Homo sapiens: one gene and its partners. The protein of the gene in region 1 purifies or fractionates together with the protein of each later gene. This does not show direct contact. Each region holds a gene or a part of one and is shown in the gene's direction. Other genes may lie near its edges. The genes, in order: THEM4, SIRT5, NENF, TOP3A, PDSS1, PRORP and PDSS2.

Region 1 (3,500 bases):
CAAAAAAAAAAAAAAAAAAAAAAGGAAGCAAGAAAACTTACAGTCATGGCAGAAGGCAAAGCAGGAGCAGGCACTTCACATGGACACAGCAAGAGCAAGAGTGCAAGGCACAAGGTACTATACACTTTTAAACAACCAGATCTCATGAGAACTCACTATCATGAGGACAGTACCGAGGAGGATGGTGCTAAACCGTCCATGAGAAATTCACCCCCATGATCCATTCACCTCCCACCAGGGCCCACCTCCAACTTTGGGGATTACATTTCAATATGAGATTTGAGCGGGAACACACATCCAAACTATATTCCAGTGTTTTTTTTTTTTTTCCTGTAATACTTTTTCCAGCTGGCTAATTTCTGCTTATCTAATCAATATTCAAGTCAAAGAACCCCTTCCTGAACCCCTAATCCTAGATGAGTACTTCTCCCTTATCCCCTAACTTCCTGTGCATAGCCACTGGAAGCACTTTCAACATGGAAGATAATGCCTGTTCTTAACCTCCATCTCCAGTGTGCTGGGCTTACCTGTGCTTGATTAAAGTCTGGAAAAAAAGAATGGAATCAGCAGACCTGAGCATAATCCTGGCTCTGTCAATAGCTCGCTGGGTGATGTTGAGCAAATCATTTTCCCTCTCTCAGTCTCTCATTTTCCCAAGGAGGTTGGACCAGATGATCCCTGAAATTCCCTTCCATTTTGAAGTGACAAGCTTATGGGGAGAAGAAAAGCAGCAAGATAATCTTAGAAATTGGGAGAATATGTTATGAAATAGAATGCACCTCCCATTACTTACTTTTCTTTTTCTTCTGTCTTTTAGAGGTCATTTTCTTCTGAGGAAGTCATTCTTAAGGACTGTTCTGTCCCCAACCCCAGCTGGAACAAGGACCTAAGACTGCTCTTTGACCAGTTTATGAAGAAATGTGAAGACGGCTCCTGGAAACGTTTGCCTTCATATAAACGTACACCTACTGAATGGATTCAAGACTTCAAAACCCATTTTCTTGGTAGAAACAGCCACTTTCCCATTAATATATCTGAGCATCAAATATAAAGCTAAGAACAGATTGAAGTACTAGTTACTACCTGAAAAAAAGAAAGAATATAATGCAGGATTATGGTTCTATAGTCACCAATTTTATAGACCAGAAATCACAATAAATTTTGCAGATTGGAGAGCATAAAGCCTATTGTCAAGAATAAGACTGCTCCCACCCTGGCATTCTTATCACCATTAGCAAGAGTGAAGAAAGGGCCCCAGAGAGCTTCCACCCTCCTACAACCTCATCACCTCTCCGTCTTGAGGCTGTCATCTAATCTCATTTCACCCTTTATCCCATATCTGGTTATATCACCCTAAGAAGCTTAGAACACTCAGGTTATACCCACATCTCCCAGTATCTAAATCCCCAGGGCAACCCACCCAACACCCAAAACACACACATAGCAATTCCTATCCTTCTGTGTTTTTTTACTAATATACTTTTTTAGCATTATAATTTTATAGAAAAATTAGCCTAAAGTACAGAGAGTTCCCATATACCCTTTATCCCCTCCCCACCCCTAATTTCTCCTATTATTAACATCTCACATTACTGTGGTGTATTTGTTACAATTGATGAGCCAATATTAATATATTATTCTTAATTAAGGTCCATAGTTTGTTTTAGGGTTCACTCTTCGTATTATGTTTTCCGTGGGTTTTAACAACTGTGTAATGACAGATATCCATCATTATAGTATATTTGAATCATTCACAGATATTTCTGAGTTACTCATTATCTTTTAATCATCCAAACACATCTTTAGGTGGTGGTTGGTTTTTTTTAACTGACTTTTAAGAAGGCCCTTGGGCCAGGCACCGTGGCTCATGCCTATAATCCCAGCACTTTGGGAGACTGAAGCGGGCGGATCACTTGAGGTCAGGGGTTTAAGACCAGCCTGGCCAACATGGTGAAACCTCGTCTCTACTAAAAATACAAAAAAAATTAGTTGGGCCTCGTGGCGGGGACCTGTAATTCCAGCTACTTGGGAGGCTGAGGCAGAAGAATTATTTGAATCCAGGAGGCAGAGGTTGCAGTGAGCTGAGATCGCGCCACTGCACTCCATCCTGGGCAACAGAGTGAGACTGTCTCCCCCCCTACAAAAAAAAAAAGAGAAAAAGAAGGCTCTCAATATTGCCCAACAACCATACTTCATGTTTCCCTAGTTTATTCACTCTCCTCCCTTACTGGATGAGTATTTTCTGCCTTTTTCTTTCTTCTTATGCCTCTAATACTTTCCCTTCTCACCCTCAGTTGGTCTCGCTTCCTATCTCACTAAGAGAAAATAAAAGCAGTCAGAAGAGAACTCCCAGTCTCCCATTGCCTCACATATCCTCCCCCCTGCATCTGTGCCTGATGTTCTGCTTCTTCCTGCTGTGAGTGAACCATCCACACTCTTAGGGAGACCAAGCCTTCCATTTGTGCGCTGCATTCCATTTTCTTTGGCCTACTGAAGGACATCCATCTCTGCTAGATGTTTCGTATCAGCATATAAACATGCCACAACTGCATTTCTCTCTTCCCAGTCTCTCTCTCTCTCTCTCTTTTGTTTTGGGTTTTTTTGTTTTGTTGTTTTTTTGTTTTTTTTGTTTTTGGTTTTGAGAATGAGTCTCACTGAGTCACTCAGGCTGGAATGCAGTGGCGTGACCTCGGCTCACTGCAACCTCCTCCTCCCGGGTTCAAGTGATTCTCCCACCTCAACCTCTCAAGTAGCTGGGATTACAGGTGCATGCCACCACACCCAGCTTATTTTTATATTTTTAATAGAGACAGGGTTTCACAATGTTGGCCGGGCTGGTCTCGAACTCCTAAATTCAAGTGATCTGCCCCACCTTGGCCTCCCAAAGTGCGGGGATTACAGGCATGAGCCACTGTGCCCAGCCTATCTTGAACCCACTCCCTCAAAACAGCTCTTGCCAAAGGTACCAGTGACCTTCATGTTGCTGAGTCCGCTAACCTCTCAGCTTTTGGCACAGCTGTTGACTCCTTTCTGTTTGAACATAACTTCTAGGACACCACATTCTCCACTTCACTGGTGCCTCCTTTTCAGTTTCTTGGGCTGGCTCTTCCCCATCCTCAAACCCTTCATGTTGGGGTGCCCTCAAGTCTCAGTCCTTAGTACTCCTCTCTTCTCCACACTCCATTGGTAATCTCATGCAGTCTCTCAGCTTTAGAGACCATCCAGAAGTTGACAACTTCTTAATTAAATGGTTGAAATTTAGTGCCTGGGTTCAAATTCTGGTTCCACAATTTAAAGCTGTGCAACTTTGAGCAAGGCACTTTACCTTTCTGTGCCTCAGTTTCCTCATGGTAGATACTTTAGTATTTGCTGAAGGAATGAATAAAACAAAAATAAAACTAATCAAGAAAAATTATAGAGTTCTTAAGTTTCTTTGCAGAATCTCTGATATATCTCGAGGGAAGAATTATTCTGTTTTATAAATGAAGAGGAAAAATGTG
Region 2 (4,158 bases), on another chromosome or scaffold:
ACAAAACGGTTTAAAAAACAATGAGCATTTTCAGCTGTCTACTGTTTAAGAAAATAATGAGCTCTCAGTTTTGCCCTCTGAGCGATTTCTCCAGGACTGCCCTGGTAACACTACTACTCAACAGTTTTGTGCTTTGCGCAGTTACTTGACCTCCCTGGGCCTCGGTTTCCCCACCCATAAAGTGGGGATAACAGTACCTATTTCATCAGGTGGTGGGGACGATTTAAAATGGTTAATAATGTGCAGTTCTTAAAAGTGTCTGGCTCAGAATAAGCACCATACACGTTAGGGGGAAAAACAGCAGCCGGATGTGAGGCCCTCCCCAATTTCGTTACTCCATAAACCTCTGAGTTGCTGGTAACACCTGCAGGAATGAGAAGGGCCTCAACATGGGCTGAATTTCCAGCCAAACTGTGGGAAGTGGCTGAGATTTTAGGTAGGCAAAAAATGTTAATGTAACATTTTTGGCCCCCAAGTTCTCAGACCACTTACTTCCCTTTCTAGTCCACTGACATGCCCGCAAGCAATTCCATTCTGCCAAGTGGTGCTGGTGGCAAGCCGGAATCCAAGAAAAGGAAAGACTCCGATTTTAAGGGAACGGGGACATGCGGAGCCACGTGAGTCACTGGGTCCCAGAGCCACGGAAGGCTCTCAGCTCAGCAGTCAGAGTGCACTCGTCATTGCGTTCGAGGTTAGGTGGCCTAGCCTGGGAACCAACTCACCGTCATTTGAAATCGTTTTAGGGAAAATGACCCTAACATTTAAAATCCTCTCTCCTGAAGTTGTGTGGTCCAGCCGTTTGCTGAAGGAGGAAGCAAAGCCGGTAGTAACTCACTACATATTTGGGCAGTGGAATGAACCCTGGAAGCTGACAAAGTCGAAGCAAGTCACTGCGCCGCCCCCCACCCCCACCCCCACCCCAAATAAAAACAGAGAGACAATCCTTCAATTATAAAGAAGACCACGGCGCCCGGGTCTCCGGCAGGGGCCGCTGCAGCCGAGCAGAACGCTGAGCCGCTCCGCCCCACGGCCTCCTCTCCAGCCGGCGCGCCCGCCTCCCGCAGGTGCGTCTCTGCCTGCGCCGGGCCGGGGTCTCCGCGGCCTCTCCCGCTCGGGCTCCGGCTTCGAGGTCCCGACCAAGCACTGCTCTCGCGGGACTGCGCGCACCGCCCAGGGCCTGCCGCGGGCTCGCGAGCGGAGGTGGCACCGGTCCGCGGTGCGCATGCGCGGCCCGGCCTCTGCCCTGCGGTCCCGGGCTGGTGACTGGCTAGCGGTTGGAGGAAGGGATGTGGGGGATGGTGGGTGGGTACAGAGAGCTGGGAGGGAGGCACCCCGGGGGGCGGGGCGTGGGAGACTGTATTCGGGGGCGCGAGCTGCCCCAGGTGAGCCGTGGCTCAGGTCCGGAGCGCGGTCGGGACACAGCGCCTCTAGGAGAAAGCCTGGAAGGCGCTCCGGGGGTACCCAGAGCTCTTAGCGGGCCGGCAGCATGTGCGGGGCCCAAGGTCTTCCGGGCTCTGCGTGGGGGTCGCTGCGGCTGGAGACCAGGGAGGGGGATGGAAACGGGGTTGGAAAGTAATCCCACCCGAGCAGGTGGGCATGGGAGGCCGCTGTGCTGGGGAGCCCCGCGAGGGCTCCGAACAGAGCCTCCCTTTTCAGAAAGGTCACCCTGGTCATTGCAGCTGCCAGGGTGACCGAGGAAGGTGGCCGGGGTGGAGGCAGTGGGCGTGGAGAGGGGTCGGATTCCGGACGTAGTTTGAAGGTGGAGCCGTCAGGTTCTGCTGAGCAGCTTGGCTATGGGGCGTGCGAGAAGGGAAGGCTCAGGGCCTAGTCCCTGGGCACGAGTAGTAGCCGGGAGGATGAAGTCCCAGTGCTTCGGGGGGAGGCGGCTTGAGGACGGCTCTGGAGCTCAGGCTTGCCCGCGTGGAGTGGAAGCTGCCTCTTGGACACAGGGCGGGGAGGCCGCATGCAGTCTGGCGCGCTGGGAGGATGGGAGATCCAGAGGGGCAGGGCTGGAGGGGTAGGAGGAAAACCTGAAGAGGGTGGCGCCCGGAAGCCCGGGAAAGTGATGAACTGGGTCAGAGGCCGGGTATCAACAAATAGGAGGGTGGAGACGACCTTGAGGAAAGCAGGTGATGGAACGGGAGGGAATGGGGCCCCCTAGTGGAGACACCTGGGAGTGATGTATTGCATTTATTTAGCTCTTAGGCGTTCAAAAATTATTTATTGGGAGCCTGTACAACTTTTTGCAGTTCATTGCATTATCCTTAGCATGTATTTTGTTTTATATAAATATATATTTATATAATTATTTTTATTGACAAATTTATATATTTATAGCGTACAGTGTAATGTTTTGATATATGTATACATTGTAGAAAGATTAAATCAAGCTAATTGACATATCCATCACCTCACCTACTTATTTTTTGTGGTGAAAATCTACTCTCCTGGAAATATACAATACATCATCAACTATGGTCACCATGCTGTGCAGTAGATCACTAAAACTTACTCCTCTTACCTAACTAAAACTTTGTATCCTTTGACCAACATCCCTCCCTTCCACATCAGCCCTCTGCCAGGCCCCTGGTAACCATCATTCTACTCTGCTTCTATGAGTTCAACTTTTTTAGACCCCAAGTATATAAGTAAGATCATGTGCTGTTTGTCCTTCTGTGCCTGGCTTATTTTACTTGGCCTCATGTCCTCCAGGTTCATCCATGTTGTTGCAAATGACAGAATTGCCTTCTGTTTTAAGACTGTATAGTATTCCATTGTATATATGTGCCACATTTTCTTTATCCGGTCCTCAGTTGATGGATACTTAGTTGCTTCTATATCTTGGTTATTGTGAATAATGCTGAAAACAACACAGGAATGCAGCTATCTCTTCAACATACTGATTTCAATTCCTTTGTATATATACCCAGAAGTAGGATTTCTGGGTCATGTGGTAATTCTATTTTTAGATTTTGAGGAGCCTCCATACTGTTTTCCAAAATGGCTGTACTAATTTACATTCCACCAACAGTGTACCAGGGTTCCCTTTTCTCCACATTCTGGACAAAACTTGTTGTCTTTGATCTTTTTTATAATAGCCATTCTAACAAGCGTGAGGTGGTAGCTCAGTGTGATTTAATTTGCATTTCCCTGGTGGTTAGCAAAGTTGAGCGTTTTTCATGTATTTGTTGACCATTCATATGTCTTCTTTTGAGGAATACCTGTTCAGGTTCTTTGTCCATTTTTTAACCGGGTTATTCGTTTTGTTTTGTTTTGCTGTTGAGTTTTTTGAGTTTCTTATATATTTTAGATAAGAGCCCCTTATCAGATGCATGGTTTGCAAATATTTTCTCCCAGTCTGTGGGTTGTCTCTTTACTCTGTTAATTATTTTCTTTGCTGTGCAGAGGCTTTTTAGTTTGATGCAATCCCATGTGTCTATTTTTGCTTTTGTTGCTTTTGGGGTCCTATCCAAGAAATCATTGCCCAGACTAATATGGAGTTTTCACCTATGTTATCTTCTATTAGTTTTACAGTTTCAGGTGTTATGTTTGAGACTTTAATCTATTTTGAGTTGATTTTTGTATATGGTGTGAGATAAGGACTCAATTTTGTTATCCAGCATGTGGATATTCAGTTTTCCTGATGCCATTTATTAAAGAGACTTTCCTTTTCCCATTGTGTGTTCTTAGCACCTTTGTCAAAAATCAATTGACTGTAAATACTTGGGCTTATTTCTGGGCTTTCTATTCCTGTTCCATTGGTTGATGTGCCGATTTTTATGCCAGTGCCATGCAGTTTTGATTACAATGGCCCTATAATATATTTTGAGATTAGGGAGTGTGATGCCTTTGGCTTTGTTCCTTTCACTCAAGACTGCTTTGGCTATTTAGGGTCTTTTGCAATTCCATATGAACTTTAGGATTGTTTTTTCTATTTCTGTGAAAAATGATATTGGAATTTTGATAGAGATTACATTGAATCTGTAGATTGCTTTGGGTAGTATGGACACTTTAACAACCATTAATTTTTCTAATCCGCGAACATGGGATACCTTTTTACTTATTTGTGTCTCTTTTCTCACATCAGTGTTTTATGGTTTTCAGTGTACAGGTCTTATATCTTTGGTTAAATTTACCTGAAGTGGTTTTTTCTTTAAT
Region 3 (3,500 bases), about 61 Mb from region 1:
TGTATTATATACTGAATTCTTACAGTAATGTAAGCTAGACAAAAGAAAGTGTTACTAAGAAAATCATAAAGAAGAGAAAATATATTTACTATTAAGTGAAAGTGGATCATTATAAAGGTCTGCATCCTGAGAAGGAAGAGGAGTGGTTGGTGTTGCTATCTCAGGGGTGGCAGAGGTGGAAGAAAACCCACATATAAGTGGACCCATGCAGTTCAAACCTGTGTTGTTCAAGGGTCAACTATATATAGATAGATAAATGGTTTATCATAAGGATTGGTTTACACGATAGCGGGGGCTGGCTGGGCAAATTGGAAATACATAGAGCAGGCTATCAGAAGGGGCAGGCTGGAAGCCCTCAGGCAGGAGCAGATGCTGTAGCCCATGGGTCTTTTTTTTTTTTTTTTTTTTTGAGACGGAGTCTTGCTCTGTTTCCCAGGCTGGAGTGCAGTGGTGTGATCTCAGCTCACTGCAACCTCCGCCTCCCATGTTCAAGCAGTTCTCTACCTCAGCCTCCCGAGTAGCTGGGATTACAGGCGCCCACCACCATGCCCAGCTACTTTTGGTATTTTTAGTAGAGACAGGGTTTCACCATCTTGGCCAGGCTAGTCTTGGACTCCTGACCTCGTGATCCACCCGTCTCAGCCTTCCAAAGTACTGGGATTACAGGCGTAAGCCACTGTACCCAGCCTTGTTAAGGTCTTTCGATTATGAGATTAGGCCCACCCAGATTATCTGGGATTATTTCCTTATATAAAGCCAATTGATTGTAGATGCACAGCAATATCTAGGTGAGTATTTGATTGAATAACTGGGTACAGTAACCTGTGCAAATTGACACATAAAATAAATCATCACAATGGTTATAATAAGAGTTCCTACTTGGCTGAGTGTGGTGGCTCACACCTGTAATCCCAGCACTCACTTTGGGAGGTCGAGGCAGGAGGATTGCTTGAAGCCAGGAGTTTGAGACCAGCCTAGGCAACATAACAAGACCTCACCTCTACCAAAAAAAAAAAAAAAAAAAGAGTTCCTACTCTAAGCAGGTGTTTTGTGAATGCCTGCATTAAATGAGATGGTGGTGTGCACAGGCTTAGCGTAGGCCTGGAATAGGGCTTAGCACCGTAAGTCTTAATAAATGTTAGCTACTATTATTTTTTATTACCTTATTAAAGATACAAGCAAGAGGCATTATAACAGGTCCACGGTCCTTTCATGCACTACAGAAATCTAATAAACTCTGAAACCTAGACATTTTTGTTTTTCACAAGTCATTTGACAGAAAAACCCAGCTTGATCTGAAATCACTTGATGACAGAACCTTGTTGGAGCTGCTATGAGTCTACGTTAGTCTTTATCCCATTTACTGTGAATGTTCATGTTTCACTGGAGAAATACTAACATACTTGATTATGGGTGTTGCCTTGGACCTCCCTAGAGGTATTGCATAATATATGGTATGTTCCCCATAACACCTTTCTAAAATCTGACATATTTTCATATTGAAAACATGTCTGACCCCCAAGAGTTTCTGCTGTGGGATTGTGGACCTGTGTAACAAGGCTTTCTGAAACATCTAGCAATGAGTGACTTGCTTCTACTAGATATAAAAAAACCTTCTTTCTTGGATGAGAGCCAAGGCAGACCCGCCTCTATCAGTCACACATCCCACTGTGTGGTTCAAGGTGAGAGAGCTCAGACACCCACACAGGGATTTGCGTAGTTTCTCCAGTGGCAGCTTCAGATGGGAAATCCGTGAAGCATGGGTGTCCTGGCTGTCAGTGTCTTTCACAGAGCCACACTGTGTTCTGGATCTACTGCACCAAGAGCCAGTTCTTTCCTTTTAGGCATTGTAGGGCCTCAGAGTGATCCAAGGCTCCCTAAATCATTCACATATGGGAATAGAAAAATCTTTGGTATACATTAGTCCTCTTCGAATGCTTGCTGAAAATCTGGGCGGGGTGTGGTGGCTCACACCTGTAGTCCCAGCAGTTTGGGAGGCCGAGCTGGAAAGATCGCTTAAGCCCAGGAGTTTGAGACCAGCCTGGGCAACGTAGTGAGACCTTGTCTCTATTTTAAAAAAGAAAAAAAATCTGGACAGCATCTCCTTGGTGCTTCTTTAGAACTCCATTCTCCCAGTAATTCTAGTAAGGGTTGTACAGAAGAGGTGATTTTGAGGACCTCTTATGTAGATAACAGGTTATAAAGTGAGTGTGTTGAACAAAATTGAAAATAGAGGAAAAAAAGGTAGTGTGTTCCAGAGTGCCTTTCTTTGGCGCTTGTTTTCTTCAACTCCTGTCAAAATTGCCCTGATAGGTAGAGATATTGCTTGCACATGTTCACCGGTAGCTTTTGCCTTGTCACACACCTGTTATGATAGCAGGGTTTCACTGTCTACAGATTGCAGGCCAGAGATTGGTATTCAAGTTTTCAATAAGGAAGAATTGCCCTAGGAAGGGCAAAGGCTTAGAATCAGACAGGTATGAGTCTGAATCCTGACTTTTTATTTACCAGCAGAGAAACCATTGACAGGTTATGTAAACTCTAAGCCTCAGTTTCTTCACCTACAAAATGGGTATAGTAATAACTGCCTTACAAGATTATTTTATTTTAGTTTAGTTTTTGAGACAAAGTCTCACTCTGTCACCCAGGCTGGAGTGCAGTGGCTGATTTTGTTTTGTTTTGCGTGTGTGTGTCTGTATTTTTTTTTTTTTTTTTTTGGAGACAGAGTCTTGCTCTGTCATCAAAGCTGGAGTGCAGTAGTGTGATCTTGGCTCACTGCAACCTCCGCCTCCCGGGTTCAAGCAATTCTGCCTCAGCCTCCCCAGTAGCTGGGATTACAGGCACCTGCCACCACACCCGGCTAATTTTTGTATTTTTAGTAGAGACAGGTTTTCACCATGTTGGCCAGGCTGGTCTCAAACTCCTGACCTCAAGTCATCTGCCCACCTCAGCCTCCCAAAGTGCTGGGAGCCACCATGCCTGGCTGTTTCTGTGTCACTTCTATTCCTGTGTCTGCATTTATACTCCCAAGCCTTCCACCCACCCTCCACCTTCTCAGTTGTCATTTCCCAGGCCTGAGAGTCTGTGCCTGGGGGTTGTGCTATCCATGGATGTTCATCTACACTGGGTCAGAACTCACCACCACAGCACGCTCTGTTTACTGATAAGACCATTCCTCTGCATGGCATATGAGGTATCTATGTCACTCTGAGGCCTCAAAAATGCTAAACATTCTTTTCTTCCCCTATAATATGACTTCCTCTTCGCACTTACACCTTCAAGTAAGTAGTTTAAGGAGGAGATAAAAATTTTACTGTTAAAAAAAGGAGATTGCTGGGTGCAGTGGCTCACGCCTGTAATCCCAGCACTTTGGGAGGCCGAGGCGGGTAGATCACCTCACGTTGGGAGTTCAAGACCAGCCTGACCAACATGGAGAAACCCCATCTCTACTAAAAATACAAAAAAAAAAAAAATTAGCCAAGCATGGTGGCACACGTCTG
Region 4 (3,033 bases), on another chromosome or scaffold:
TTAGGCTGGTCTCGAACTCCACCTCAGGTGATCCACCTGCCTTGGCCTCTCAAAGTGCTGGGATTACAGGCGTGAGCCACCGTGCCTGGCCCAGCCTCATTTCTTCAGATGAAGATGCCAACCCCGATGATATTTAGGAACCTGCCCAGGGTGACACAGCTTGGGCCAATGTCCGGGAACTGGGTGTCATGAGAAGTGGCACCTGGACATTGCATCAAGTTGAATGGTGTACGTGGAGGCACTTTGAATGGTTCCTCCTGCTCCAGTGCACAACAGAGCTTAAGTAGCTGAGAATGACCCAAAGGCCTAGTGGGAGCTTTGGAGTTGAGCAAATCTGGTTCCAAAGCTCAGCAGTATAACCTTGAACAAATGACTTAGCCTCTCTGCCTCAAGTTTGCTCAACAAGATGGTCCCTGCCTACATTCATAGGGTTCCTGTTTTAGAAAGGAGTTTAGTCTCAGACTATGATTCTTACACATGTGTCACTAGCCCGGCATGCACAGAAAGAAACCAGAGGTTTGGTAAAAACTGTGGGACTTGGAACTGGCTACCAGTGCTAATGGGGCCCAGAGATGGCCATTGCAGTGAGAGACCCACATTTGAAGTGAGATGCAGTCTGGCCTCTTGTCTCCCCACTTGGAAGGACATGGTATCTGACCTCCAGGCTGGCTGACTGACTGTCCTGGGTAAATGAGCAGCTGGTCTGGAAAGGCCTGTTGAGGGGACAGGAAGGGATCCAGAGCTGGACTTTCCTGCATGGAGGTGGGCCGCAGGTTGCCGGTCATAGGCTGCTTGTCTTTCCCACCCTACCACACAGGCCAGCTTGCTTGGGTTTCTGCCTCTGTAAAAAGGGCCGGCATGAAAGTCCACTTACCAAGTGAGTGTGGGACAATGTCTCCAAAGCTTAGGATTCTTGAGGGAGAGGTGTCAGGTAACATAAGGCAGCAGGCACATCGCACCTCAACCTTACAGAGTTGGACACAGTGTGAAGGGAGGCTGGCTGGTGGGGTGTACATGGCTGTATAAAAACTGATTCAGCCGGTCGGGCGCGGTGGCTCATGCCTGTAATCCCAGCACTTTGGGAGGCCGAGGCGGGTGGATCACGAGGTCAGGAGATCGAGACCATCCTGGCTAACACAGTGAAACCCCGTCTCTACTAAAAATACAAACAATTAGCCGGGCATGGTGGTCGGTCCCTGTAGTCCCAGCTACTCTCGGGAGGCTGAGACAGGACAATGGCGTGAACCCGGGAGGCGGAGCTTGCAGTGAGCCAAGATTGCACCACTGCATTCCAGCCTAGGCGACAGAGCCAGACTCCACCTCAAAAAAAAAAGGCCGGGCACGGTGGCTCACGCCTGTAATCCCAGCACTTCGGGAGGCCAAGGCGGGCGGATCACAAGGTTAGGAGATCGAGACCATCCTGGCTAACATGATGAAACCCGTCTCTACTAAAAATACAAAAAATAAAGTAGCCGGGCGTGGTGGCGGGTGCCTGTAGTCCCAGCTACTCGGGAGGCTGAGGCAGGAGAATGGCGTGAACCCGGGAGGTGGAGCTTGCAGTGAGTGGAGATCACGCCACTGCACTCCACACTCCAGCCTGGGTGACAGAGCGAAGACTCCATCTCAAAAAAAAAAAAAAAAAAAAAAAAAGTTGGTTCAGCCTTATCGTCTGCTGCTCTTTTTTTTTTTTTTTTTTTTTTTGAGACAGGGTCTTGCTCTGTTGCCCAGGCTGGAGTGCAGTGGTGTGATCACAGCTCACTGTAGCCTCCCAGGCTCAGGCATCCTCCCGAGTAGCTGTGACCACAGGCATACACCACACCTGGCTAATTTTTGCATTTTTTAAAGACAAGGTTTCACCATGTTGCCCAGGCTGATCTTGAACTCCTGGGCTCAAGCAATCCTCCTCCCTCAGCTTCCTAAAGTGCTGGGATTACAGGCATGAGCCACCGTGTTCAGGACTTGCCACTTCTGCATGTCAGTTCTAACCTCACCCCTCCCCTGACTCTCCCGACAGGGACTTCTGGAGCCCCGTCCTGGACAGGAGACAGAGGAAGAACCCTGGAGTCGGAAGCCAGAAGCAAAAGGCCCCGGGCCAGTTCCTCAGACATGGGGTCCACAGCAAAGAAACCCCGGAAATGCAGCCTTTGCCACCAGCCTGGACACACCCGTCCCTTTTGTCCTCAGAACAGATGAGCTCAGGGTAGGGTAGAGAACGCCACTTTCTCAGACCTGTCCCCTTTGTGTTTAGAAATGAGTTAACCAGGACCAAGTGGCCATTTAGTGTCCTGGAAACTTAGAGGACAGTGTTGGCCTTTGGAGTCGGGCCTTCTTGTGTTAAGGGGCACAAGGTCCAGATCACTCTGGAGCAGGCCAGCTCTGCTGGACAGTGACCCTCTTCCCAGGCCTCAGGAGTGACCATAGCCACTGCTGAAAAGTCACGCAGCTGCTCCCTCGGACCCCCCAAGGATGGTTGCTGTTAGCAGAGGATTGGTGCAGTCCCAGCTGAAGCCCACTGTGTGCCAAAGGAAGAAGCTCCCAGGGCTGCTTCCTTCACCTGCAGAAAGCCCCAAGTGAGCCACCAGCACTCATGGGGCAGTCCCTGTCCAGGCTGCCCAGGGCTTCTCATAGACGTCCTGAGAAGGACGGTGTAATGCAAGGAAATGGCTGTGGTAACACTGATCCTTCAGAAGAAGCTTCATTCCCTCTTAATCTAGTTAAGCCAGGACATCCAGAATTCATTGCTTTAATAAAGAACCCAGGCCGGGTGCAGTGGCTCATGCCTGTAATCCCAGCACTTTGGGAGGCTGTGGGGGGCGGATTGCCTGAGCTCAGGAGTTCGAGACCAGCCAGGGCAACATGGTGAAACCCTGTCTCTACTAAAATACAAAAAATTAGCCAGGTGTGGCGGTGTGCGCCTGTAGACCCGGCTACTCAGGAGGCTGAGGCAGGAGAATTGCTTGAACCCGGGAGGCGGAGGTTGCAGTTAGCTGAGATTGCGCCACTGGACGACAGAGCGAGACTCAGTCTCAAAAA
Region 5 (3,500 bases), on another chromosome or scaffold:
AATAACTACTTTTAACACCCTGGTTTGTGTGCTTTCAAACTCTGTTCTCCCATTTCCAAAGGATGTTGAGGAACACGAACTTAAAATAGACAGTGTTTGTATAAATATAAATTCCTTCCTTGCTATTGAAATCTTTTTTCCTCTGACCAATCTTAGTTAAATGGAAGGAAATTGTTTTAAAACTAATTTTCAGGTCTGGAAAGATAGATATGAATATGGAAATGGCTTTCTTTGGGGGAAGGGATGGACTGAAGATGGTTTTTATTTTCTCCTTTTTTCTTATTTATGTTTTCTGCAATGACAAGTATTTTGTAATAACAAAAGGAAACTTTAAAATTATTCTTCCTCTAAAGTTTGCAATCTACCTGTAAATGGGTGATTAGAAGATAAAGATTATAATTATGGGGGTTTTATCATCCAATGTTACAGTTTTTCAGGAATATTCTTACAAGTTTCTTGACATTTTTATTTTATAGATACCCTATATTAATCTTGTGAAGCATTTAACATCTGCCTGTCCAAATGTATGTCGTATATCACGGTAAGTTTACAGTCCATACTGCAACTACTAAAATTATCCATTTTTAAATTTATTGTTGTTTAAAAAATTTTTTTTGTAGCGATGGGGAGCTCACTGTGTTGCCCAGGCTGGTCTTGAACTGCTGGCCTCAAGCTATCCTCCCACCCTCAGGTTCCCAAAGTGCTGGGATTGCAGACATAAGCACCCGGCCTAAAATTATTAATTATATTGCCTGTAAATTTCTATTCTAAATTGTAGATCTCTGCCTATTCAAAAAACAGGAATATAATAAAGTTTGAGCTCAACCCAGAGCACAATGAACATAGTTTAGTTTTTCTTTGATTTTGTGGGTTCTCAAGGCCCTATTTATAAAAGTGATCTATTGATCTGTCATTTAGCAAGAATAGAATTCTGTATGTTTTTCCAAATTATAATGACCTTTTCAGATTCATGATTAATTTCTAGCAAATATTTGGGCTGAATTTTCCGTATCTGAGTCTACTAAATATATATGTATATAAAACTTACTTGAAAATGAAGTCATGTGCATTTTTGCATGTCCCAGGTTTCATCACACAACCCCAGACAGTAAAACACACAGTGGTGAAAAATACACCGATCCTTTCAAACTCGGTTGGAGAGACTTGAAAGGTCTGTATGAGGACATTAGAAAGGTGAGTTTTTTATTCTGCTGTGATGTAATGTTTTAGCTTACCAAAACTTACTAAAATTTTATTTTATTTTTTATTCTTATAATTATTATTATTTTTTGAGCTGGAGTCTCACTCTGTTGCCCAGGCTTGAGTGCAGCGGTGCAATCTAAGCTCACTGCAACCCTTGCCTCCCAGGTTCATGCAATTCTCCTGCCTCAGCCTCCTGAGTAGCTGAGATTATAGGCATGCGCCATCACACCTGGGTAATTTTTGTATTTTTAGTGAAGACGGGGTTTTGCTATGTTGGCCAGGCTGGTCTTGAACTCCTGACCTCAGGTGACCTACCCACCTTGGCCTCCCAAAGTGCTGGGATTACAAAAAAACAGTGCAGGTTTTCAGATCTGTACAATGCAGTTTGCAATCTTGATTGACGTATGGTCAAGTTTCAAATGTTTCTTGAGAAGAATACATATGACCCAGTGCCAGGCAATATGAAGAATGCAATATGTATTTATGTCCAGAAAGAGGTTATGGCAGGGTTGGGAACCTGAAGGAAAAAAATGGTCCAGGTAGCTCATGCTTGTCCAATGAGTTATCCCACCTTTCCTCTTAAAACCCACCACCTCCCAGTGACTCCAGCTGTCTCTTCCTTATCTAATTCTGAATGTCATTGCCAGTCTGCCCCAAATATGGCTTTCTTCATTCAACTCTTTTTCCTGAAAACTTTCAGTAGTTCCCAACCTCACGTGGTTGGGCACCGTGGCTCGTGCCTGTAATCCCACCAATTTAGGAGGCCAAAGCAAGAGGACTGCTTAAGCCCAGGAGTTTGAGGCTGCAGTGAGCCATGATCCCGCCATTGCACTCCAGCCTGAGTGAGAGAGCAAGACATTTTTTCTGTCTTTAGAAAAAAATTGGCTGGGCACGGTGGATCACACCTATAATCCTAGCACTTTGAGAGGACACCACTTCCTGTTTCACAGACAGTAGGGGCTGTGGAGGAAGAACTCCTTCAGCTCCTGCTCTGTCGCAATTGGCCAGCTTGCCTGCGCCTTCTCTGGCGATTGCCTGCTCTCCTCCCACCCGTGGAAGTCATGTCCCTTCCCTCTCTAGGGGCAGTCCCTTAGCCAACCTCCCTAGTTTCTTAGGAACTCCCCCAGACATGGCCTCTCCCTCTGTCTGCAAACTTTCATTGGCATGGTCTTCCATATCCATTGGGTGTTCAGTTTCTTCACCTGCATTTTTAAAAGGCCCATCCACTGACCCAGTGCTTCACTCCCTCCCTTCCCTCACAGTATCCCCTGCCCTCTGCCTTCCTCCAGTGCCTTCATGTTCCCTCCACTATTGCACTGGGGCCCCCTTTCCAGCCTCTCCTCTGAAGCTGGTTTTGCTTGGGTCACTGATAGCTTCCCTGTGCTAAATCCAATGGATGTGTTACCAGCAGCAAATTTGTACAGGTCTGCAGCAACCTCAATTCTTGCCTCCTCAGAAGAAAGAATTCGACTGAGGGGCCTAAGGCAGAAGGAGAGACGGAGGCAAGTTTTAGAGCAGGAGAGAAAGTTTATTATTAAGTGTAGAGTAGGAAGGGAAGGAAGTAAAGTACACTTGTAAGAGGGCCAAGCTGGTGACCTGAGAGAAAGTGTGTGGTTTGACCTTGGAATTTGGGTTTTAGATGTTGGCATACTTCCAGGGACTTGCATCCCGTCTCCCCGGATTCTTCCCTTGGGGTGGGCTGCCCGCATGCGCAGTGGCCCGCCAGTGTTGGGGAGGGGAGCATGCTCAGTGTGTTTACCGGAGTTTTGCGCATGCTCACGTGAGGCATTCTTCCCATACCAGTCCCAGTTTTCCTAGAAGGACATACACCAATTAAGCTCTGCCATTTTGCCTCTTAGTGTGCATGGTTGAGCCGACTCACCCAACTCCCGAGATCTTATTGGGAAGCTGATCACCAGTTTCAGGTTTTTGTATCTATTGAGAGACTGCCGTCCCTTGGCACCAGCTGTGACCAATTAGTATTTTAGCGACACAGTTAACAACTGCTTGACCATCACGTGATGGTCGCCTTCCTGTTGTGGGTCGGGGAGCCCTCTCCTGCCCTGCTCATGCCTGACTAGCTATCTACTGTAACGGACACTTCCTGGTTTTCTGACCATTGGGCACTATTGACTGTAACCCCTCCTTGAAACATGGTTCCCTTCACTCTGCACTTTGTTCCCCCTCCTTATCCTGAGGCTTTTCTTCGGTTCATCACCTCCAGCTCACTTCCTTTAATTTTGCCATTCCCTGGGGTTCCGTGGGCCCCCTCCTCTCTCTCTTCCTTATATATCTGT
Region 6 (2,786 bases), on another chromosome or scaffold:
ACAATTTAGGAAAATCCAAGGAGGGGACGTTTTATCTTCTTACCTATTTACTGAATGCAACATTACTGCACACCAAGACAAAAGAGCTCTCCAGGAAAACATTGGATATATTGAGAGCATTAAAAGATACTGCAAAAGCTCTAATAAATTCAGTCTGCTTATTTTCCAAATTTCATAAACTACATACTTAGGAAACTGTGCTTTCAGTGAGCTAAACTTCTTTTTTTAAGTAACTATCATAGTTTTAAGAAAAACATTTTAAGAAGACAAAAAGTATTTATTAAGCCCATCTAAAAGGCTAATGCAAATTCCCAAAAAAGGAGCACATAGAGATAGAGGAGGAGGCCGAAGTGGTGGCTCATACCTGTTAATTCCAGCACTTTGGGAGGCCAAGACAGGAGGATCACTTTAGGCCCAGAGTTGGAGACCAACCTGGGCAACATAGCAAGACCCTGTCTCTTAAAAAAAAAAAAAAAAGACGGGAGAAGCTACAAGAAGAAAACTAGAACTTTAGAGCAGGAGTAACCTTAGAGCATGTAAAGTCCATTTTGGAGATGAGGAACAGACCCAGGAAGATGACCTGGCTTCCCTGAATCCCACGGCTAGTTAGTGCAGACATTTCAGCCATAACCCAGCTCTTCTAATTCCCAAATACTCTTTCTTCTACTGGCACATAGAGATGGGGGAGGAGTCAGGGCATGGTGGCCCACACCTACAGTTCCAGCACTTTGGGAGGCCAAATGGGAGAATTGCTTGAAGCCAGGAGTTGGAGACCAGCCTAGGCAACACAGGGAGACCCGTGTCGACAAAAAATTTAAAAATTAGCTGGGCATGGTAGCACATGCCTGTGGTCCCAGCTACTCAGAAGGCTGAGGTGGGAGGATCACTTGAGCCCCAGAGGTCAAGGCTACAGTGAGCTATGATCATGCTACTACACTCCAGCCTAGGTGACAGAGTGAGACCCTGTCTCAAAGGGAGGGAGGTAAGAATGAGAAGAAGGAACAGGGGTGTACCTCTTTTAAGGGCCCAAGTATCCTGAATGGCTCAGCAGTATAGAACATTGTGGTAGAGAAATTACATTTTAAAATAACTCTAATACTGTTTAGAAACAAAACCCTAACTTCTGCTTGAGATAAACTGAAGTGCATCTGTCCCTTGTCCAGGAGTGGGGAACCATTGTAGGGTTGCTCAGCATAAGTCATACTGCCACGGTGACCTTGAGGAGTGCAGGGATTCCCTGAAGGAAGCAGCTGGTACCAGACACTTAGGCTGCCCATTTGTGTTCTGATCATTTGAGTGAAAAAAAGGTACCTGTCAAGCAAGCTCCTGGACACCACAAGAAGGAGGAATTATTTTAAAAGCTGTACTCTTAAATTGTTAGTATCTTTAAAATCAGTTGTGAACAATGAAGGATTTGAAAGAGCATTGACTTTGCCACTTAAAAGTATTTCTAAAATACTTTGTGCTTCCCCCTTGCATTCTGAATTTATACACTTTTCCTCCTGCTGTTCTCAGACCCAGTGGAAAGAAAATCTCAAGGAAGAAGGCTGAGTTTATTCTCTCAGGGCTCTGTTGGGTCTACCTCATCTGAGGTGGCTTATTCTTCATAGGAAATTAATTTTTCTTCTCAAGTATGCACTTAAATATAATTACTGCTTCCTTGGTCCTCTAGCAGATTTCTCACTTTTATTTATTTTTTTTTTTGAGACAGAGTCTTGATCTTTTTTCATCTAGGCTGGAGTGCAATGGTTTGATCTCAGTTCACTGCAACCTCTGCCTCCTGGGTTCAAGCAATTCTCATGCCTCTGCCTCTCGGGCAGCTGGAATTACAGGCATGCGCCATGACGCCTGGCTAATTTTTGCATTTTTAGTAGAGACGGGTTTTCACCATGTTGCCCCGGTTGCTCTCAAACTCCTGACCTCAGGTGATCCACCCACCTCAGCCTCCCAAAGTGCTGGGATTACAGGTGTGAGTCACCCCGCACAGCCTGAAATGAGGCATCTCTATCTATAGTCCAGCAGCCCTACAGGAGGCAGGAGGGGAGCAAGAATAAGAAAGGAAATTTGTAAAAGGCACTTAGGAGTGAGCAGAAAGGAAATAGGACCAGCTTTTACCTGCCCAGTCCTGGCCAGTGACAAGCAGTCTGCTTGAGTCTGTGCTAAATAAACAAAGGAAGTTCCATTTAGAGCTCTACAGAGGGGAAGCCATAGAAATTAACAGGATGAAAATACAAGAGACAGGAACACAGATGAATAAATGTAATAAAATTTGAGAAATAATCTTTACTTTTATCATCTCCATTTATGCTTTTTCATGATGTCCTGACGTTCCCTCTCCCCAAGTTTAGTTTTTTGTTTTTGTGGGTTTTTTTGGCATTATTTGATCTGACGAGTGCTTCCAGAGGTTCTACTACATACACAACTTGCTTTTAACTGGTAATGGAAATAAACAGGAAGACAATTATCTAGTCACTGATGGCAGCTAAAAATTATTTTGCTACCAGAGTGCCCTCAGAAGTATACTCTTATCTAATGGATCGAGTTATTATGATAACTGTGGTAATTTGTTGTTATAAATAGCAGTAACATAGGAAGGTTTTGGTAACTTCTGACAAGAAATTTGATGTAGAGAGTTAATTTCGAGCACATTAAAATGACTGTCCCACTCATCTCTTCAGTGCTATTTAAAAGCCAGCCCAAGAAGCAAATACTTGAGAAATCAATAGTAGGGGCTTTAATTTTGAATATGATAGACATTAATTCATTTTAATGAGACCAGGTCAGAT
Region 7 (3,500 bases), on another chromosome or scaffold:
AACATCTTCAGGACCTAGGGCTAGGTAAGCAGTTCTTAGACATGACACCAAAAAATTCATAAAAGAAAACAATAATTGGACTCCATAAAAGTTCAAAACTGGCCAGGCGTGGTGGCTCACGCCTGTAATCCCAGCATTTTGGGAGGCCGAGGCGGGCAGATCACAAGGTCAGGAGTTCGATACCAGCCTGACCAACATGGTGAAACCCCATCTCTACTAGAAATACAAAAATTAGCTGGGCGTGGTGATGTGCACCTGTAATCCCAGCTACTCAGGAGGCTGAGGCAGGAGAATCGCTTGAACTTGGGAGGCGGAGGTTGCAGTGAGCCGAGATTGCGCCACAGCAAGCCAGCCTGGGAGACAGAGTGAGACTCTGTCTCAAGAAAAAAAAAAAAGTTTGAAACTTAGCTCTGTGAAAGACCCTGTAAAGAGGGTGAAAAGTTTAGCCACAGACTGGGAGAAAATATTTGCAAATCACATATTCAAAGAAGGGCTTGTATCCAGGTTATGTAAAGAAATCTCTGAACTCAAGAGGTTGGGTGCGGTGGCTCATGCCTGTAATCCCAGAACTTTGGGAGGCCGAGGCAGGTGGATCACTTGAGGCTAGGAGTTTGAGGCCAGCCTGGCTAACATGGTGAAACCCTGTCTCTACTAAAAATACAAAAATTAGCCGGTGTGGTGGTGGGTGCCTGTAGTTCAAGCTACACCAGAGGCTTAGGCAGGAGAATCACTTGAATCTGGGAGGCAGAGGTTGCAGTGAGATCGCGGCACTGCACTCCAGCCTGGGCAACAGAGTGACACTCTGTTGCAAAAAAAAAAAGAACTCTCTAAACTCAAGAAAGCAAACAATACAATTAGAAAATAGGGGAAAAAGCTTGTGCGGTGGTGCATGCCTGTAATCCCAGCTACTAGGGAAACAGAGGCAGGAGGCTTCCTTGAACCCAAGAGTTTGACTTCAAGGCTGCAGTGAGCTATGATTGTACCACTGCACTCTAGCCTTGGCAACAGAGCAAGACTTTGTCACTTAAAAAACAAAAAAGAAGAAGAAAGAAAAGAAAATGGGCTAAAAGAAAAACCTATAAAGGTAGCAAGTAAGCATATGAAAAGATGTTCAACATTATTAGCCTTTTGGGAAATGCAAATTAAAATCACAATGGGATGTTGAGGTGATCGGGCCCAACACCAGGCCCTGAGGGCTACAAAGTCTGGCGGGGTCAAAGGAATGAGAAAAGACAAGTTAAGAGTTCATAAGGTGTGTCCAGAGGGCCAGCGCTAGATTGGAGGCTGCAAAGGCCCCGAGCTCTGGGAACCCGCCCTATTTATTGGTGATCAAACAAAGAAGCAGGTGGTGAGGACATGAGGGTAAACAGGTGAGGGCATGAGGAGGTGAGAGTAGAAAGGTAGTGGTGCATTAAGTGTAGCTGTGACGGTTTAGCACTTCCTTTGACCCATATAGAATATGCTCTGCTGCTTGAGATAATGGAGGGCATGTTTACAAGAAAGAAGCAAGGAACCAACAAGTCTGTGCACATTCCAGAGGCTACGAGGGGTTTATGCCCTGAGCCCTGGATTCCATCAAAGCCACAAGGGGTTTTATGCCCTGGGCTTAGATTTGTGGTGCGGCAGTGTAGCCTTCCACCCTTTGGCACAGAGCTTGGTGTTCCAAAGGCCACGAGGGGTTTCAGACCCTGGATCCCGGACATCTTCCAAGACTCTTTTACATTATGACAGACAAGCCAGTCCTGCCTCAGCTCTTCTACCAACAATGGGATACTACTATGTACCAATTAGAATGGCTAAAATAAAAAATATAATATGTAATTCTAGTAACGATGCAGATAAACTAGATTTCTCATGCATTGCTGATGGGAATGTAAAATGGTTCGGCCCCTCTGGAAAACAGCATAACAATTTCTTATAAAATTAAACATACGACTGGGCACAGTGGCTCACGCCTGTAATCCCAGCACTTTGGGAGGCTGAGGCAGGCAGATCACTTGAGTCCAGGATTTCAAGACCAGCCTGGGCAATGTGGCAAAATGCTGTCTCTACAAAATATATAAAAAATTAGTTGGGTGTGGTGGTGCACACCTGTGGTCCCAGCTACTTGGGAGGTTGAGGTAAGAGGATCACTTGAGCGCGGAAGTTGGAGGCTGCAGTGAGCCATGATCGTGCCATTGCACTTCAGCGTGGGTGACAGAGTCAGTCCCTGTCTCAATCAATCAGTTGATTGATCAATCAGTTTAAACATACACTTACCATGTAGCCCAGCAATCAGACTCCTGAGCATTTATTCCAGAGAAATAAAAACTTATGTCCATACCAAAACCTATACACAAATGTTTGTGGCAGTCTTATTTGTAATAGGCTGCCATAACCTATAGAATTATAGGTTGAAAATCCTACATATATGTATTTCTCCTTTGCAGTTAAGTTTCTTGTATTAATGCCATTTTCATTCCACAGCTTGGATAGGGCTGTGTGTTCTTTCTAGAGGAAAGATCCTTTCTTTAGAATGATGTTCCATAATTTCACCTTGATGGTTTTTGGAGTGGAGAATGAAGGCCTTCTTAACTTAATCCTATATCCTTTATTTTGGGATGATTTTGTGTGTTATTTCTTCAGTATCATGGTTCCCACCATTTTTCTCTCTCATGTTGGAATTTTGTAGTTGGTCATTGTGAATTGATTCCTCAACATTCTTCCCCCTACATTCATAGTTTTCCTTTCTTTAATTTATCCTCTACATATATACTGTTTGTTATACTGTTTTAATTCTGTCTTTAATTATTTCCCAACTGGAAACAACCCACATATCCTAGTGAGTGGTTGAACAAACTGTGGTCCATACATAACAACGAAATGCTACCCAACAATAAAAAGAAATGAACCACTGATACAACAACTTGGGTGAATCTCAGATGAATTATTCTGAGTGAAAAAAGTCAATCTCATTCATCAAAAAATTAAAAATAGAATTACCATATGACCCAACAATTCTGCTTCTGGGTGTGTTTCCAAAAGAATTGAAAGCAGTGTCTCAAAGAGATATTTGTATACCCATGTTCATAGCAGCAGTATTCACAGTAGCCAAGAGGTAGAAGCAACCCAGTTGTCCATTGATGGTTGATAGGATTAACAAAATGTGGTATATATTACCATGGAATATTATTCAGCCTTAAAAAACAAGGAGGGACCAGGCACAGTGGCTCATGCCTGTAATCCCAACACTTTGGGAAGCTGAGGTGGGAGGATCACTTGAGGCCAGGAGTTTGAGACCAGCTTGGGCAACACAGTGAGACCCCATCTCTATAAAAAAATAAATTAACTAGACATGGTGGCTCCTAAAAATAAGTTGGCTAGACAGCTGCTCTAGAGGCCAAAGTGGGAGGATCGTTTGAGCCCACGTGTTTGAGGTTGCACACGTGTCATAATATGGATGAACCTGGAGGACATTATGCTGAGTGAAATATGGAGGACATTATGCTAAGTGAAATAAG

What was found.
Region 2: the proteins of THEM4 (region 1) and SIRT5 purify together in Homo sapiens (affinity purification with mass spectrometry; 2 studies listed by BioGRID and IntAct, with this or other methods). This does not show direct contact.
Region 3: the proteins of THEM4 (region 1) and NENF fractionate together in Homo sapiens (co-fractionation; one large-scale study listed by BioGRID). This does not show direct contact.
Region 4: the proteins of THEM4 (region 1) and TOP3A purify together in Homo sapiens (affinity purification with mass spectrometry; 2 studies listed by BioGRID and IntAct, with this or other methods). This does not show direct contact.
Region 5: the proteins of THEM4 (region 1) and PDSS1 purify together in Homo sapiens (affinity purification with mass spectrometry; 2 studies listed by BioGRID and IntAct, with this or other methods). This does not show direct contact.
Region 6: the proteins of THEM4 (region 1) and PRORP purify together in Homo sapiens (affinity purification with mass spectrometry; 2 studies listed by BioGRID and IntAct, with this or other methods). This does not show direct contact.
Region 7: the proteins of THEM4 (region 1) and PDSS2 purify together in Homo sapiens (affinity purification with mass spectrometry; 2 studies listed by BioGRID and IntAct, with this or other methods). This does not show direct contact.

What each region holds. Positions count from the first base shown.
Region 1 is NC_000001.11:151,892,512-151,896,011, reverse strand, and holds part of THEM4 (acyl-coenzyme A thioesterase THEM4), read left to right. Parts: intron 1-817; coding exon 818-1,004; intron 1,005-3,500. UniProt on the Homo sapiens protein: Has acyl-CoA thioesterase activity towards medium and long-chain (C14 to C18) fatty acyl-CoA substrates, and probably plays a role in mitochondrial fatty acid metabolism. Plays a role in the apoptotic process, possibly via its regulation of AKT1 activity.
Region 2 is NC_000006.12:13,573,243-13,577,400, forward strand, and holds the start of SIRT5 (NAD-dependent protein deacylase sirtuin-5, mitochondrial), read left to right. Parts: upstream 1-1,358; 5' UTR 1,359-1,502; exon of another isoform or gene 1,503-2,129; intron 2,130-4,158. UniProt on the Homo sapiens protein: NAD-dependent lysine demalonylase, desuccinylase and deglutarylase that specifically removes malonyl, succinyl and glutaryl groups on target proteins.
Region 3 is NC_000001.11:212,435,920-212,439,419, forward strand, and holds part of NENF (neudesin precursor), read left to right. Parts: intron 1-3,500. UniProt on the Homo sapiens protein: Acts as a neurotrophic factor in postnatal mature neurons enhancing neuronal survival. Promotes cell proliferation and neurogenesis in undifferentiated neural progenitor cells at the embryonic stage and inhibits differentiation of astrocytes.
Region 4 is NC_000017.11:18,273,962-18,276,994, reverse strand, and holds part of TOP3A (DNA topoisomerase 3-alpha), read left to right. Parts: intron 1-2,014; coding exon 2,015-2,193; 3' UTR 2,194-3,033. UniProt on the Homo sapiens protein: Releases the supercoiling and torsional tension of DNA introduced during the DNA replication and transcription by transiently cleaving and rejoining one strand of the DNA duplex.
Region 5 is NC_000010.11:26,704,201-26,707,700, forward strand, and holds part of PDSS1 (all trans-polyprenyl-diphosphate synthase PDSS1), read left to right. Parts: intron 1-476; coding exon 477-541; intron 542-1,085; coding exon 1,086-1,194; intron 1,195-2,999; exon of another isoform or gene 3,000-3,128; intron 3,129-3,500. UniProt on the Homo sapiens protein: Heterotetrameric enzyme that catalyzes the condensation of farnesyl diphosphate (FPP), which acts as a primer, and isopentenyl diphosphate (IPP) to produce prenyl diphosphates of varying chain lengths and participates in the determination of the side chain of ubiquinone.
Region 6 is NC_000014.9:35,275,337-35,278,122, forward strand, and holds the end of PRORP (mitochondrial ribonuclease P catalytic subunit isoform 1 precursor), read left to right. Parts: 3' UTR 1-2,286; downstream 2,287-2,786.
Region 7 is NC_000006.12:107,449,565-107,453,064, reverse strand, and holds part of PDSS2 (all trans-polyprenyl-diphosphate synthase PDSS2), read left to right. Parts: intron 1-3,500. UniProt on the Homo sapiens protein: Heterotetrameric enzyme that catalyzes the condensation of farnesyl diphosphate (FPP), which acts as a primer, and isopentenyl diphosphate (IPP) to produce prenyl diphosphates of varying chain lengths and participates in the determination of the side chain of ubiquinone.